Homo sapiens: one gene and its partner. The protein of the gene in region 1 purifies or fractionates together with the protein of each later gene. This does not show direct contact. Each region holds a gene or a part of one and is shown on either strand. Other genes may lie near its edges.

The links.
Region 2: the proteins of ZNF221 (region 1) and CDK11B purify together in Homo sapiens (affinity purification with mass spectrometry; one large-scale study listed by BioGRID and IntAct). This does not show direct contact.

What each region holds. Positions count from the first base shown.
Region 1 is NC_000019.10:43,957,694-43,961,504, forward strand, and holds part of ZNF221 (zinc finger protein 221), read left to right. Parts: intron 1-2,493; exon of another isoform or gene 2,494-2,663; intron 2,664-2,682; exon of another isoform or gene 2,683-3,811. UniProt on the Homo sapiens protein: May be involved in transcriptional regulation.
Region 2 is NC_000001.11:1,642,005-1,645,815, reverse strand, and holds part of CDK11B (cyclin-dependent kinase 11B), read left to right. Parts: intron 1-526; coding exon of another isoform or gene 527-553; coding exon 554-690; intron 691-3,307; coding exon 3,308-3,430; coding exon of another isoform or gene 3,431-3,469; intron 3,470-3,811. UniProt on the Homo sapiens protein: Plays multiple roles in cell cycle progression, cytokinesis and apoptosis. Involved in pre-mRNA splicing in a kinase activity-dependent manner. Isoform 7 may act as a negative regulator of normal cell cycle progression.

The DNA of each region.
Region 1 (3,811 bases):
CTTGCTAATTAACCTAATGTTTTTATTAACATCTTTAATATCTTTAAAGGGAAGCTGAGACAGCAAATCTGATAAGGCTTCTAGGACTGTTGTTCAGTTTTGCAAGAGTTAAGATGTCAACTAATAAATAAAATCAATACTGAGCCACAAACAAAAGAAAAGATGTTTTAAGTGGGGTCTTGTGAATTGCAATCAAGAAGTACAGATCTAGCAGTCAGCTAAATCATTTCCTGTTCTATCCAGGCAAGGTTGGGCAGGGGCTTATAAATGTTTACTGTAAGTTTACATATCTGGAAGGTATTAGTACAGTCCATGATTGATGTCAGTTGGTTAGCAACTTAGGATGTCTTTGGTTGATGATCAATCTAGTTCAGCATAGCTGTTTCCCCAAGAGTTTCGCAATCAGGCCATGTATAAACAATTCCAATCAAATGCAGCTGGTTTTACAATTTGGCCCAGTTAAACAGGTTAAAATCCATCTGGATGTGTACATAACTGAGGTCCAACTCCACATGCCTCTTTTTAGAAACTTCTGACATAACCATCTCCATTTTGAGTTTTCTTTTTACAAAAGTCACGTGGGGTATCCATGCGAAAGGGGCCCCCTTAGCCACAGCATTTACCATGACCTGGGTAAGAAGCATATTCAGCAGATGAATATCCCAGTCATCATAAATTCAGTCCCACGTGGCTTGCATGCGGTATATCAGCTGCATCATCTGGGGTATCCCACCGAGCATTTATAGGGTGAGTTGAGCAGTCCGCTTTTTCAGGGCAAGCAGACATTACCATGTCTTTTATCCAGTTGATCAGGCTGGCTGTTCCCTTGGGAACAATCTGTTAACATTGATAGTGAGATTCAGGCAATATGGTTAAATATTGAGTTTATTCAAACACAAAATTTTAAGATGTCCACCTGGGAGGACACGGACTTCAAAAGATTGGATAAGTGCTCTGAAGTGGAAAGGTTTGAGAGTCATTATGTAGGCAGGGTCTAGGAAGCTTAACAGGATGTCAGCATTTTCTATACAAGATTAATGCATAGTTATAGCAATTCGATAGCAGTGTTTCCTTTTATTGGGAAGAACGTATTTAACATTCTGCATTAGAGATGTAATAGTCAAAGGGGTCTTTTATCTCAGACAAAGAATCTTTTATCTTAGATGCTATCTGGTCTGAGCCAGGAACAAGAAAACAAAGAAGGAAGTTAAGAGGTCAAGCTCAGTGACTCAGTTTCCTTCGGGCCTAACAACTTTTAGAAGCCCAAAATAGATAAGACTATTGGGTTTTTGGTTGTTTTTTTTTTTTCACATCTCCTGTGTGTCTGCATCAGGTGTTTACCGTCTGTAATTGTTGCATCATGTATCACCATCTGTAATTGTTTCATAGTGAACTGTGGGTCCTACATAAACCCAAATATGCTCTTCAATGCAACATTTAAAACCAAAGATGCTGCTACTTAGTTTCTCTCACAATCCAGTTGAGTAAAGATTCCTTAAGAAGCTACAAAATAAACAATTCCTTCACACTGTACACTGTAGTTTCAGTTTCTTGGTTTTACCCTTCCCATACACTGATTGCCTTTTGGTAACCACAGGTCTTAGAGGTACTTACTGTTGTCCTGGTATATTTTTTCCCTTAGGGACAGCTTTGAGGCAAGTGGCTAAAGCTTAGATTCACTAAAATTCGAACTTGGTCAAGCATCAGAGTCCAACCCAGTCCTTTTAATTACATTTGATATAGTTTGGATGTTTGGTCCCTCCATATCTCCAGTGTTGGAGGTGGGGCCTAGTGGGAGGTGTTGGATCCTGGGGGTGGGTCCGTCATAAATGGCTTAGTGCTATCCCCTTGGTGATTAGTGAGTTCCTGCTCAGTTAGTTCATGTGAGATCTGGTTGTTTAAAAGAATTTGGGTCCTCCAATTTCTCTCTCTTGTTCCTGCTCTCACTTTGTGACATGCCTGCTCCTACTTCACCTTCTCCCATGAGTGAAAGCTCCCTGAGGCCTCACCAGAAGCTGAGCACATGCCAGCACCACATTTCCTTTACAGTCTGAATAAATGTAAGCCAGTGAAACCTCTTTTCTTTATAAATTACCCAGCCTCAGGTATTTTGTTACAGTGACACAGAAATGAACTAATACAGAAAATTGGTACTGAGGTGCAATGCATTGCTATAAAGATGCCTGAAAATGTGAAAGTGGCTCTGGAACTGGCTAATGGGCAGAGGTTGGAAAAAGTTTGGAGGGCTCAGAAGAAGATAAGAAGATGAGGGAAAACTTGGAACTTTTTTTTTTTTAACTTTTTCACTGAGCCATGGGAACTTCTTACAGACTGATTAAATAGCTGTGACCAAAATGCTGGTGGGAATATGGACAATGAAGTCCAGGCTGATGAGATCTCAGATGGAAATGAGGAAGTTATTGGGAACTGGAGTAAAGGTCACCCATGTTATGTCCTAGCAAAGAACTTTGCTGCTTTGTGTTCATGCCCTAGGGATTTCTGGAAGCTTGAACTTAAGAGTGATAACTTAGGGTACCTGGCAAAAGAAATTTCTGAGCAGCAAAGCATTCAAGAAGTGGCCTGGCTGCCTCACTGCTTCAAACAGCCTACAATTATATATGGGAGCAAAAAAATGACTTAAAGTTGGAATTTATATTTAAAAGGTAAGCAGAGTATAAAAGTTTGGAAAATTTGCAGCCTGGCCATTTAGTAGAGAAAGAAAAAGCATTTTTAGGAGAGGAATACATGTCGGCTGTGGAGCAACCACTCGCAAAAGAGATTTGCATGACTAACAGAAAGCCAAGTGGTAATATCTGAGACAATGGGAAAAAGACCTGGAAGACATTTCAGAAGTCTTCAGGAAAGTCCCTCCCATCACAGGCCTAGGGGCCTAGGAGAAAAGAATGGTTCCAAGGGCCAGGCCCAGGGACCCCCTGCCCTGAGCAGCCTCAAGACATTGTGCCCTGAATCCGGCCACTCTGGCTCCAGCCTCAGCTTAGAGTGCCCCAGGCGCAGGCTGGGTTGCAGCTCCAGAGGGTTCAAGCCTTGATAGTTGTGGTAGTTTCCACATTGTGTTAAGGCTGCAGATGCTCAGAATGCAAGCATGAAGGAGGCTTGGCAGCTTCTACCTAGATTTCAAAGGATGTATGAGAAAGCCTGGGATCCCAGTCAGAAGCCTGCCACAGTGGGGGAGCCCCAACAGAGAACCTCTACCAGGGCAGTGCCAAGGAGAAATGTGAGGGCTCCCCACAGAGTCCCCACTAGGGCACTACCTAATGGATCTGTGGTAAGGGGACCACTGCCCTCTGAGAAGTGGTCCTGAGACCACTGCTCAGTCATATCACTTGGCTGCCCAAGGCCTTGGGAGTCTATCTCTTATACCAGGATGTGGGACATGGAGTCAAGGATTATGTTGGAGCTTTAAGAGCCCTGGCTGGAGTACAGTAGCACAATCCTAACTTGCTGCAGCCTTTAACTCCTAGACTCAAGCTATCCTCCTGCCTCAGCCTCCCAAGTAGCTGGGATTACAGGCTCAAGCCACAGCACCTGCCTCTTCATATGCTCTTTACCCAAATTTTCCAATTATTTACATTTTGTATTTTGCTTTGTTAACACCCATCAGCCAAATACCACTGGGAACAAACTTATAATGAGAAACAACTTATTGTAGCTTTCTGCATCAAGGAACCCCACATAGCAAGGTGATCATGGAGTGTCTTGGTAAGAGGCATTTAGGAAGGGCTGGCTATAGAGTTTCATATAAGATGCTAGGTAGTATTAGATATAATATTAAGTAATATCACTATTAAAT
Region 2 (3,811 bases), on another chromosome or scaffold:
CAGAAACAGGCCAATACAGCAGGAAGATACAGCAATGATACGTGTGAATGCATCTAACCACAGAGCCCAAAATCCATGAAGCAAACACCGATCGAATGGAAAGAAATGGATCATTTATTAATTAGAATTGGAAATGGCAGCTGGGCACGGTGGCTCGGGCCTGTAAACCCAGCACTTTGAAAAGCGGAGGCAGGCGGATCACGAGGTCAGGAGATTGAGACCATCCTGGCTAACATGGTGAAACCCTCGTCTCTACTAAAAATACAAAAATTAGCTGGGAGTACAGGGCGCACGCCTGTAATCCCAGCTACTCGGGAGGCTGAGGCAGGAGAATCGCTCGAACCCGGGAGGCGGAGGTTGCAGTGAGCCGAGATCGCGCCACCGCACTCCAGCCTGGGGGACAGATGAAGACTCCGTCTCAAAGAAAATAAAATAAAAAAATGAAAAAAAAACTTCACGGATTGAATTACGTAGAAAGCCAGTTTACAAATGTGGACAAAAACGCGATAAGCAAGCTTCTGTTTAGGGGGAATGATGGCGTGTGCCTCTTCAGGGACCGCTTGGAGCAGTTAGAAAGGAAGCGGGAGCGGGAGCGCAAGATGCGGGAGCAGCAGAAGGAGCAGCGGGAGCAGAAGGAGCGCGAGCGGCGGGCAGAGGAGCGGCGCAAGGAGCGGGAGGCCCGCAGGGAAGGTAGGCGGCGCGGTGGGCAGCTGTGCTCGGCGGGACGCGTGTCTGCTGCCCCCTGGTGCTGGGCACTTGCTGTCACAGGCGGGCGCTTGGTTCCGGTGCTTGCTTTTCGCCCCTGCCTTTTTTTTTTTTTTGGAGGCAGAGTTTTGCTCTTGTCCCCCAGGCTGGAGTGCGGTGGCGCGATCTCGGCTCACTGCACCCTCTGCCTCCCGGGTTCAAGTGATCCTCCTGCCTCAGCCTCCGGAGTAGCAGGGATTACAGGCACCCGCCACCATGTTCAGCTATTTTTTTATATTTTTAGTAGAGACAGGGTTTCACCGTGTTAGCCAGAATAGTCTCTTGATCTCTTGGCCTCGTGATCCACCCACCTCGGCCTCCCAAAGTGCTGCGATTACAGGCGTGAGCCACCGCGGCCGGCCAGTACGAGCTTTTATAGTCACCCACGTCCTCACCTTAATGGAGATCTTTATTTCTTCACCCAGCTTCCGGTTTCTGTCTCGCGTCCTTTCCTTACACCCCACACAACTCCCTGGAGCTTATTCTTCAAGGCAGGTCTAGGTCTAGTAGTAATGAACTCCCTCTGCTTTTGTTTATCTGAGAATATCCTCATTTCTCCCTCATCTTTGAAGGAAAGTTTGCTGGATACGTGGTTCTTGGTTGACAATTTTGTTGTTGTTGTTTTGAGACAGAGTCTTCTTCTGTTGCCCAGGCTGGAGTGCAGTGGAGCGATCATAGCTCACTGCAACCTCGAACTCCTGGGCACAAGTGATCTTCCCACCTCAGCCTCCCGCGTAGCTGGGACCTACAGGCGTAGCGTGTGCCACCACACCTGGCTCATTTTTCAGTAGAAACAAGGTGTCCCTGTATTGCCCAGGCTGGTCTTGAATTCCTGGGCTCAAGGAACCCTCATGCCTAGCTGACAGTTTTTCCTTTTCACTTGGACTATTTCAGCCCATTGTCTTCTGGCCTCCAAAGTTTCTGATGAGAAATCTGATGATCTTATAGAGGATCCCTTGGATGCTTTAATCTGATGACCTGATTGAGGATCCCTTGGATGCTTTGAAGATTCTCTTTGCCTTAGGCTTTCAACTGTTTAATAATGGGTTTTCCTGTGGGCCTCTTGACTTCATTCTACCTGGAGTTCACTGAGCCTCTCTAATGTTTATATTTACGGTTTTCATCCAATGTGGGGGTTTTGAGGAATTCTTCAGATACCCTCTCTGCTCCTCTCCTCCCTCCTGGGCTCCCACAGATCTGTTGGGGTCCCCGAGGCCGCTCAGCACTGCTCCCTTTTCTTCAGTCTCTTCTGCTTTCTTTTCCTCAGACGATGTGATTTTATTGTCTTCAGGCTCACCGATTATTTCTTCTGCCTGCTCACATCTGCCTGTGAGTTTCTGTTGTGAATATTTACTTTTTAGTGTCTATTGTGAGCATGTACTTATTAGCTCTGGAATTTCTCTCTGGTTTCTTGTTGGATCTTCTGTCTCTGTTGATATTTCCGTCGTGTTCACGCGTCATTTTCTTGACTTTCTCCACATCTTCCTTTCGTTCTCTGAGGAACTGAAGGTTAAGACAGTTCCCTAAAGTCTTTGGGACATCTACCGTCAGGTGATTTTCAGGAACCGTGTCTGTTGGCTTCTTTTTTTCCCCTCTGAATGGGACATACTGTCCTATTTCTTTGTTTCTCTTGTGTTTTTCTTAGTCAAAAAAATGGACATTTGATTCTCATGATGTGATTCTTCCTGGTCCCCACTCAAGGGTGTGCACTTGTTGTTTTGGTTGTGCTGGGCTGTGTCTGTGGGGTCGGCCTGTTGTGGAAACTCAGGGTCTTCACGGGTCTTTTCTGAGCCTGAGCCTTTTCCTGGTCACGTGCAGCCACTTTTTAACGTTCCCGTCAATACAGATGTTTTTAATGTTCTTGTCCTGAAGTGTCTGCCTCCTAAAGGGGGAATAGAGAGAAATGAAGGGGGCAACGGGGGACGTGGTGCTCATGCCCTGGAAGTACCTTCAGCTTGGGGGTGGCCGTGGCTGCTGCCTCTTCATGCCTCTGGGGTGGGACACGCAGTCATCACACTGACCTCGGGTGTGTGTGTCCGTCTGCCCACCTGGGTCCGGCGAGCTGCATGCAGGCTGCTGCCTGCCAGCGGGGAGTGAGGTGGGAGCCACTAATGTGCGAAGCGGTGACGTTGATTAATGAATCACAGTTTACTCTCCAAGATTCCCCCTGAAGTTGCAAACCTTCAGTAGACTCCAGAGCACCTCAGTAGTTGCACAGGCCTGATCCTGTGATGCAAGTGTTGTCTCGGTGGGGAGACTGATTCCCAGTGCTTCCTACTCCATCTTTCCAGAATCTTCTCCCGCCCCTTCCTTTTTGACCAGTGAAGATCAGTCTAGAAGGTCCACCTGGGTCCTCGGGCTCACGGCCTCCAGGTTGGAGCTTTTTCTCCCTGGGCTTCCTGGGAGACCTCTGGCCTCTGACCCCGATGCTGTCAGCACCCTGTGCACGCTGTGGGTGTGTCTGCCAGGTGCGGGTGTGGGAGACGAGGCAGCTGTGCCGGGTGGGGCCTTTTGAGGAAGGCAGTGCTGCTAGTGCCATCTCCCTCTCTGCCCTGCGCGCCAGTGTCTGCACATCACCGAACGATGAGAGAGGACTACAGCGACAAAGTGAAAGCCAGCCACTGGAGTCGCAGCCCGCCTCGGCCGCCGCGGGAGCGGTTCGAGTTGGGAGACGGCCGGAAGCCAGGTGAGGCCAGGCCGGCGCCTGCGCAGAAGCCAGCACAGTGTGAGTCTTTTCTGGGGGATGTTTGGCATAAGTGTGTAGGATTCATTTAAAGCCCAGCTAAGTAACCGCTTCAGAAGAAAGTGAGAGATGTGCTGGCTGAAGTCCTCTCGTGTCGTGAGAGGGACCGTGAGTGTCTGTGTGCGGCCAGGACACAGGACGTGTGTTTATCCGCTGGGACATTCGCCACTGGCCCCGTTAGAGAAGTGGCTTCCAGCGTCTCTGGATGAGCTGGTTTCCGACCAAGCAAAGTTAATCGTTACGTGAAAGGCACTAGTTTTGGGGTGGTGGTAGCTTGTTTGTTTAAAAACATTTCCCCAAATTCACCTTTATGGTTTATCTCAT